3 separate regions of the Homo sapiens genome follow, and all the other regions are linked to region 3. Evidence: fine-mapped expression QTL. A gene starts in region 3. Each other region holds a variant in brackets. All regions are shown on one strand. Distances are from middle to middle.

Region 1 (2,754 bases), 27 kb before region 3:
CCCGCCCCATCTCACCGCGGCCCCGCCCCCCGCCCCCTCTCACCGCGGTCCCGCCCCTTCTCACCGCGGCCCCGCCCCCGTCCCCGCCCCCACCACCCCCCAGCAGGTCCTCGCGACTCCGCTTCTGGGCCCCAGGTCTGTGCGCCCTGATTCGCCACCAGCGCACCTTCCTGGGCAAAGCCCCGCTGGGGCCCTCCTGGTGGGCACGAGGTGGTCCGGGGCGGGGTGACCGGCCCCGCCCTTCCCTTTGCCCGCGGGCGTCGCAGTCCGGCAGGGCAGGATGAGCCCCCGGGCCGTCCCGCGGCTGCTGAGGCTCCAGCGACACCTAGGCCCCCAGGAGGTTAGGGGGCCAGGCCTGGACCTGCAGGGCTCCTGTCCCCTCAGCTGCTTGCGTGGGGCTGAGCGTCGAGGGCCCAGGAACCGGGGCGCGGAGGAGAGCCCAGTTCCGGGAGAACCACCCCAGGGGCTGGAACTGAGGGCCTGGGGGGAAATGGCCATTTCGTGGGGCCGTGGGCGGGACAGTGGGTGTCCCCAGTGGGGCAGGGGAGCCACAGGGATTGGTGGGGGAGGGTCGGCAGGCACAGGCTGCGCTGTTTACGTTTGGTGCCTCATCAGCTGCCTGGGCACTTCCGGTCACCCTTGCCCCCTGTCCCCTGGGCAGCTCGGAGAACTCTGTCCAGAGGGCTGTTTAAGCCCCACAGCTGGTGTGGACGCAGGATTGGTGTGGGTAGGCGGGCACAGGGCTCCAGAGGCTCACCCTGGCCTCCTTCTCCTGGCCCAGGGCAGCAGCACGGAGCCTCCGGACAACCTACTGACCACCCACGTGCTGGACACCGCCTCAGGGCTCCCAGCCAGAGGCCTCTGCCTCCGCTTGTGCTGGCTGGAGGACCACGGCCAGCAGTGGGCGGAGCTGAGGACAAGGTAGGAGAGAGGCCCTGGGAGGGGGAGTGCCGCCCTGAGACAGATGGCGGGGACTAAGGGGCCAGGCAGTGAGGCTGGAGGGCGGAGCTCACCGCTGCCGACCCTCCTCTCAGCCCGGGTTGGGAGTGAGGTTAGGGGCTCTCTCTTCTGCTTCTCTCAGCCCGTTTCCTCCTCTGAAAATACAGGGATGAGGAGAGGAGCTCTTTCCTCCCTCCCTCCAGCCTCAGGCCCCTGTGACCCTGATGGGGTGGGAGTGA[G/T]TTTCTGCCTCTCCCTGGCAGCTGTGCCAGGGCGAGGGCGGGGGGTGGTGGTGAGGTGAGGCCTGAGGTGGCATCGAAGAGCTCACTGAGATCACGGGTAACCTTGTGCCAGGCAGTACGCTGGACATTATTTCCACTCTTTTCATTCTCCATACACCCCGTGGGCCAGCACCATAATTCACCCTTCTACACATGGGAAGACTGAGGTAGCAAGCCCAGGTGCGTGCTGGGATTCCCAGCCAGGCCTGAGGGGCAGTGTGTCCCTCAGCCTCCATGGGGTCTTGCCCACTGCCCCAGGCACAGGCTCTGCGCGGCACTTCCAGAGGCAGATGTCACCCACCCAGGCCTCATGGCCCCTGCGTAAGAGGCAGGCCCCCTCCCTTCCAGCCAGAAGGACAGGGCTGGGCCCATAGGATCAGAGAGAGTCTGACCCTGCCGCTCCTACAGTCGTGTGGTCCTTCACAAAAGCTGAGACACGAGGGGTCCAGGTCCCACCTGAGCAATTAGGACAGCACTGTGTGGGCTGGGCGTCCCGTGCAGGGTCACAGAGACTCATTACCCTCATGCACACACGCTATGTTTGTTGTTGTTGTTGTTGTTGAGACAGAGTTTCACTCTTCTTGCCCAGGCTAGAGTACAATGGCGTGGCATCAGCTCACCGCAACCTCCGCCTCCTGGGTTCAAGCGATTCTCCTGCCTCAGCCTCCCTAGTAGCTGGGATTACAGGCATGCACCACCACGCCAGCTAATTTTGTATTTGTAGTACAGACGGGGTTTCTCTACGTTGGTCAGGCTGGTCTCAAACTCCCGACCTCAGGTGATCCACCCACCTCGACCTCCCAAAGTGCTGGGATTACAGGCGTGAGCCACCACACCCAGCGTGCTATGCTCTTTTTCTTTTTTGAGATGGAGTCTCTCTGTTGCCCAGGATGGAGTGCAGTGGCACGATCTTGGCTCACTGCAGCCTCCACCTACCCAGTTCAAGCAATTCTTGGCCTCAGCCTCTCGAGTAGCTGGGATTACAAGCACCTGCCACCACCCCCGGCTAATTTTTGTATTTTTAGTAGAGACAGGGTTTCACCATCTTGGCCAGACTGATCTTGAACTCCTGACCTCGTGATCCACCCACCTTGGCCTCCCAAAGTGCTGGGATTACTGGTGTGAGCCACCTTGTTCGGGCCTGCTCTTTCTAATCACAGCAGAAGCGCACACTTTAAAGACCAGCTGGCAAGAATGATGGGAGGTTTTCCAGAAGTGACTATGGGCAAAGCCACGGTTATTCAGAACCCTGATAAGGGACCAGGGCACACAACACAGACGCTCCGTGGAGTTGGACAGGCCCACTCTGTGGGTGAAGGTTTGGTAGTTATTGACCCAGAAAGCCACACACTTTTTTTTTTTTTTTTTTTTTTTTTTTGAGATGGAGTCTCGCTCTGTCGCCCAGGCTGGAGTGCAGTGGCACGATCTCGGCTCACTACAGCCTCCGCCTCCTGGGTTCATGCCATTCTCCCGCCTCAGCCTCCCGAGTTGGGACTACAGGTGCCCGTGACCACGCCCAGCTAATTTTTTTGTGGTA
Region 2 (2,754 bases), 37 kb after region 3:
TACAAATATTAGCCAGATGTGGTGGGGCGTCCCGGTAATCCCAGCTACTCAAGCGGCTGAGGCAGGGAGAACTGCTTGACCCCGGGAGGCGGAAGTGGCAATGAGCCAAGACTGTACACTGCACTCCAACCTGGGCAACAGAGTGAGACTCCATCTGAAAAAAAAAATCTAAAAGGCATAGAGGTCTCAGACTGACAATACAGCAAAGTCTTCCGGAACTCATCCAGAAACATTTCGCCCACACAGCTGCAGATACCACAAGAAAATGGTGCCACCAAGAATGAAAATGCAACCCCAAAGGCCTCCACGAAGCCACCCAGCGGCGAACACAGCCCGACAGCCGGTGCGCAGCAAAAACACAACTTGAGAGTGCGGCCATTTCCTTAGGTATCATGACAACAGCGTTGCTTTCTCCTCTCCACAGAATCTGAAACCACTATAACCCTACTTTTCTTGACTACTCAGGGTCATGTGACCAACACGAACGTGTTTATGACAGGGGCCTCTTGACCATAACGCAACCGCATCACGGTCAGCGTGTCAGATACCTGGAGAGGACCTCACAGAAGCTCTGGGATCTGTCCAGAACCCACACACCAGCAGGCATCTTGCTCCTCACAGCAGCAGCTGTGAGTGAAGACCAACAGCAGAGATGGGCTGCAGCAGCTCTCCCTTCCTCCCATAAGGAGTCATCAGGGACCTCTCTGAAGACAGGTGTGTGCCCTGTGGCCAGACAAAAAGGCCTTGGGTGGTGGTTCACAACTGTAATCATAGCACTTCAGGAGGACAAAGTGGGAGCATCACTTGAGCCCAGGAGTCTGAGACTAGCCTGGGCAACATAAGGAGACACTGTCTCTAAAAAAAAAAGTGCGGGCTGGGCACAGTGGCTCACGCCTGTAATCCTGGCACTTTGGGAGGCCAAGGTGGGAGGATTGCCTGAGCTCAGGAATTCGAGACCAGCCTGGGCAATACAGTGAAACCCTGTCTCTACTAAAATACAAAAAACTAGCAACCTCCACCTCCCATGGAGGTGTAGTGGCCAGAACCTGTAATCCCAGCTACTCAGGAGGCTGAGGCAGGAGAATCACTTGAACCAGGGAGGTGGAGGTTGCAGTGAATACAGATCGTGCCACTGTACTCCAGCCAGGGCGACACAGCGAGACTCCATGTCGGAAAAAAAAAATTACATTTTTTACAGTCCCAGATACTCAGAAGGCTGAGGTGGGAGGCTGGCTTGGAACCAGAAGGTCAAGACTTCACACCACTGCACTCCAGCCTGGGTGACAGAGCAAGACCCTGTCTCAAAAAAATTAATTAATTAATTAATTAA[A/TTAAA]AAAAAAAAAAAGGCCTTAGCCACAAACCCTGGTGGGAAAACAGGACTTTCCTACAGAAAGAAGTTCAGATCTTAACACTGTATCAGTTAACAAACGTCCTTCTGAGGGCAACTGAGAAGCACGGCACCTGCTCTCATGTAACTTTATACTAAACCCTGAGCAGTGCTTCACCAGCCTTCAGCAACCCGACAGACCAGGCCCAGTGAAGGACAGGCGGAGGCTTGCTGGTTACTAAACCCTGAGCAGTGCTTCACCGGCCTTCAGCAACCCGACAGACCAGGCCCAGTGAAGGACAGGCGGAGGCTTGCTGGTGCCACATGCCCCTGTGCACAGACACAAAGCCCCAGCCGCTGTCCAGGGTCAGCCAGCAAAGGACAGGGGTGCAGGAGGGGACACGGGTACACTAGGGGAAACAAAAGATCTGCATTAGGTATGTAATTGATACTTGATGATAAACAGACACAATCAGACAATCAGAACTTACTCACAGAAGCTGAAGCTAAAAACAAAAAGCCAAGATGTTAAGGAAGCTTCCACCTTGCAAGAAAATGGGCTTATTAACCTTCTGTTGGGGAAAGTAAAACTGTGTCTCATCTAAAAAATGAGCTTCCTAACCTTCTGTTGGGCTGGCTACTGGGAAAAGTAAACCTGTGTCTCATCTATGGCCTGAGGGTGGGACTGCCCAGGACATCTACCACACAACGGGTTTTCAACCCAGGCCTCAGAGCTCACAGCTTCTTAAGGGCATCGCAGACCACGTGCACCACTACAGCGGCCTCCTTCCCAGGTAGGTAAACTATAAATTCCTCTCACCAGACCTCTGGCCAGGTAATACTGTACAAAGTGCTTCCACGTGATTTCTCTTCCAGGATCTCGAAAATAGAGGTAGAAAAATCCCATGGCAACGCCTGCCCCCAAAAGGGCCAGACTGCGGAAATCCTCGTCATCCCAGGGGAAGTCCCCCCTGTGGAAAAAAGAAAACACATTTTCCAGTTAAATGAAGGTAGTTTCTTTATGAAAATAGCTATTTCCTTTTTCAGATGTTATTAGGAAAGTTTTGCAACCCCCCCCCACCGACCGTACACAATGTAGCCTCAGTTCCTCTCATGAGGAAAGATCTTTACGTGGTGTATGACACACACTGAAAGCCGCAGCTCAGCAGATGCCTCAGGAGAAGCAGAAAGTCCACAGAGAGCGCTGTGTTTGAGCCACTGTTGCTAGGGTTCTCTCTTATGGGGGTCTGTTAAAATCCAGACAGAGGCCAGGCGTGGTGACTCAGCTCTGTAGTCCCAGCACTAAAGGAGGCCAAGGTGAGAGGACTGCTTGAGCCCAGGAGTTCGAGACCAGCCTGGGCAACGGTGGGTGACCCCATGTCCACAAAAAATTTAAAAAAAAATTAGCCAGGAGTGGTGGTGCAAGCCTG
Region 3 (2,754 bases):
AGCTCAGGATAGCCTAGACAGGGTACTCATTTTTCACAAGCTAAGAGCAATCCTGGTCTGTCGGTGTGGGCTGCAGAGATGAATCATTCAGGGAGCCCTGAATTGCGGCTCCCTGGGATCCCGACAGGGCCCACTGCGACCTGTTCTTTTCATATTGAATTCGAGTTCAGATTTTTAGAAAAGAGCCTTTTCTTCACATATGTGGCTTAAGATACTTTCATTCAGTGTCAAGCTGTGCAGCTCAGAAACCCAGATAAATGGCATCTGAGTTTCCTGCAAAATCCCAGAGCAAATGTTAATACAAACAAACCGACTGCCCTCTGTCTGATGTCTGATGCTTCCTGCCACCCACTATCCACCAGGTAAACCGCCTCAGGCCACGGCATCAACTCAGTGAAGGCCTGGATGCTGGGTTAACAAGAGTGTTTATGAAGACTAGACTTTTTCTTTTCTTTTCTTTTCTTTTTTTTTTTTGAGACATACAATCATAGCTCACGGCAGCCTTGGACTCCTGAGCTCAAGCTGTGCTCCCACCTCAGCCTCCCAAAGGGCTGGGATTACAGGCATGAGTCAATGCTCCTGCAAACGGACTTTCTTTGAGAGATAAATATTGAAGTACTTACAAATGCAATGATCTAATGTGTATATAATTTGCTTCAAAATGACCCAGCAGTGGAGGGAAGTGAATGAGGACAGAGAAGCAGTGGCCCAGGCCAGGAGCTGGCAATCGCTGAATCTGGGCGATAGGGACATGGGGGTCAGTTTCATCGAAACTGCCTTGGCGCTCTCTGCAGCCCGGGCCCGCCGCCCTCTCCTTACCTCCCATCCCCCATCCCGCCCCTTCCAGCCTCCCAAGCACACGCCCTCGCCCCCACCCGCCCCCCGCGTTAATTCGCGCCATCCAGGGCGCTCTGTGAGTCTGTCATTACCCAGCGCGAGTCAGGCCCCTCCTGTGCCCCTCGCCAGCCCCGAGGGGCGCCCGCACACAGTCGGCGCCCCACACGCAAGTACCTGGAAGAGAACAAGAGGACGCCAGCGGGCGCGGCCGCCAAGTGAGTGCGCAGGAGCCCCGGACGCCCGGCCGGGGTCGGGAGGGCGCAGCCAGGTCCCGGTGGTGTCCGCGGCGGGGCGCGGCCCGCGAGGGAAGGGTCGGCGGGGGAGGGGTCCGCTGGGCCAGGGGCCAGCAGGGGGCGCGCGCGGGCCGGGGCGGGGCCGCACCTGTCCTGCGGCTGGGGGGGCGCCGGGAGGGGGCCGGGGCCCGGGAGCAGCTGCGCGCCCCGCCCCGCCCCGCGGGCTCCTCCCTGCCGCCGCGGCCCCCCGGTTGCTGCCCCGATGCGCTGCGCCCGGAGCCGGGGCCGAGTCGCTGCCGCAGCTGTTGGGGCGCCCGGGCCAGGCGACGCCGCCGTCGCCCGTGCCCCTCCCAGACCGCACCGGCCGCATGGAGCCCCCGGAGGGCGCCGGCACCGGAGGTGAGTTCAGCCCCAGCCCCCGAGACCCCCGCGCAGCGCTTCCCCGCAGCGAGCCGCAGCCCCTCCCCCCAGGGCTCACCCTTCGCCGCTCCCGGGAGTCGCGAAGACCCCTTTGGCAGCTCGGGGTCGTCCGGCGGGCCAGGGGCACCTCCCGGGCGCGGTCCCCGCGCGGGGCTGGGGGCACACGGACCGAGTCTCCGCCCCCTTGTTCTCTGCGCTCCCGGCCCGGGAAGCCGTGCCCGGCACGCTCCTTGGTGGGTGGCCCGGAGTTTCGTCCTGAGCCCCCTCCCAGCCAAGCCAGCCGGTGACCCGGGGAGCGGGGGAGGGGGGTTCCGGGGCTGGAGTTTGGGGTCCCTGTCGGTGGGGCGTGAGGGCGACGCTGGCCGCTTGCAAGCGCGTCCGCTTTGTTCGCCCAGCCGCGAGTCCCGGGGGGCGAGGGCCGTAGACTCGCGGGCAGGGATCCTGCCAGGGGCGAGGGGCTGAGATGGGTCTTGGGGATGTGGGGCATGCACGGGCGCGGCCTGCCGGGGACTCCAGAGCTGCAAGGGTGGCTGGTCCGGGAGTGGCCCAGGCGCACGCTCATCGGGGAGGGTAGGTGCGCGTGGAGCGCTCCCTGCCCTGATGGTGGAGGCCCTACTGCAGGACCTTGGAGTCGGTAACGGGAAGAAAGCTCTCAGAACCTCCCCCCTTCCCGATCAGAGACTTTTCCAAAAGGGCTTTCGGGGTTCCATTTGCCTAGGTAGGAACTTGGATGCAAACTGCAGACTCCTCCACCTGCCCAGCCAAGCCCACCACCTCCTGGTTTCCTAGAGCTCCCATTCCAGGGAGCCAGCAGGTGCCTGAGGGCACAGGCAGGCCAGCCTGCCGCTCTGGAACTACATGGGAACCTCTCAGTCCCCCAGCCGCACACAGTGGCATCCTCTGGAGCCCGAAGGGCTGTCCCCGGGAGGAGCAGGTCCACCCACCCTGTGTATCTGCAGTCCAAGGTATAGGGACAAATGCCCCAGGGCTGGTGGGTTTGGGTTTTGATTTGTCATTTGTGGGAGGGACCAGAGCTCTTTCTTAACACTGATAGTCCCAGGCTCCTGGGTATTCCCAGTAGCAGCTTTGTGGACATAGGAAGCCTGGAGGTTGGGAGTGAGGGCTTGGGGGTCTCCGAGCTGTTTCCAGCTGTGAACTGTGGGCAGTCAGGCCCCTGTGAGCCTCAATTTCCATTTCTGTCAGTGGAGACAGTTCTGCTTCCCCTGCAGGGCTGTGGGAGCCCAAGGCATTTGGGAGTGGAGGT

What was found. PIP is the estimated chance that this variant, and not a neighbour inherited with it, causes the effect.
Region 1: its variant is the best candidate, but not a certain one, in a credible set for the expression of DBNDD1 in lung (TOPMed, PIP 0.55).
Region 2: its variant is the best candidate, but not a certain one, in a credible set for the expression of DBNDD1 in prefrontal cortex (ROSMAP, PIP 0.80).

What each region holds. Positions count from the first base shown.
Region 1 is chr16:90,045,124-90,047,877 of GRCh38, reverse strand. It overlaps the pseudogene URAHP. Among named protein-coding and RNA genes, the nearest start is that of GAS8-AS1, 17 kb to the right of the region's middle. RefSeq lists an enhancer at 942-1,455. The variant G/T (reference allele first, on the strand shown) is at 1,179.
Region 2 is chr16:89,981,314-89,984,067 of GRCh38, reverse strand. It overlaps the pseudogene AFG3L1P. Among named protein-coding and RNA genes, the nearest start is that of SNORA119, 29 kb to the right of the region's middle. The variant A/TTAAA (reference allele first, on the strand shown) is at 1,331.
Region 3 is chr16:90,018,026-90,020,779 of GRCh38, reverse strand. It overlaps DBNDD1 (dysbindin domain containing 1), which reads left to right and starts at 1,324. Exons shown (of 4, transcript NM_001042610.3): 1 at 1,324-1,469. The coding sequence starts at 1,439. It also overlaps a transcript of DRC4 not described here. RefSeq lists silencers at 25-319, 1,066-1,205.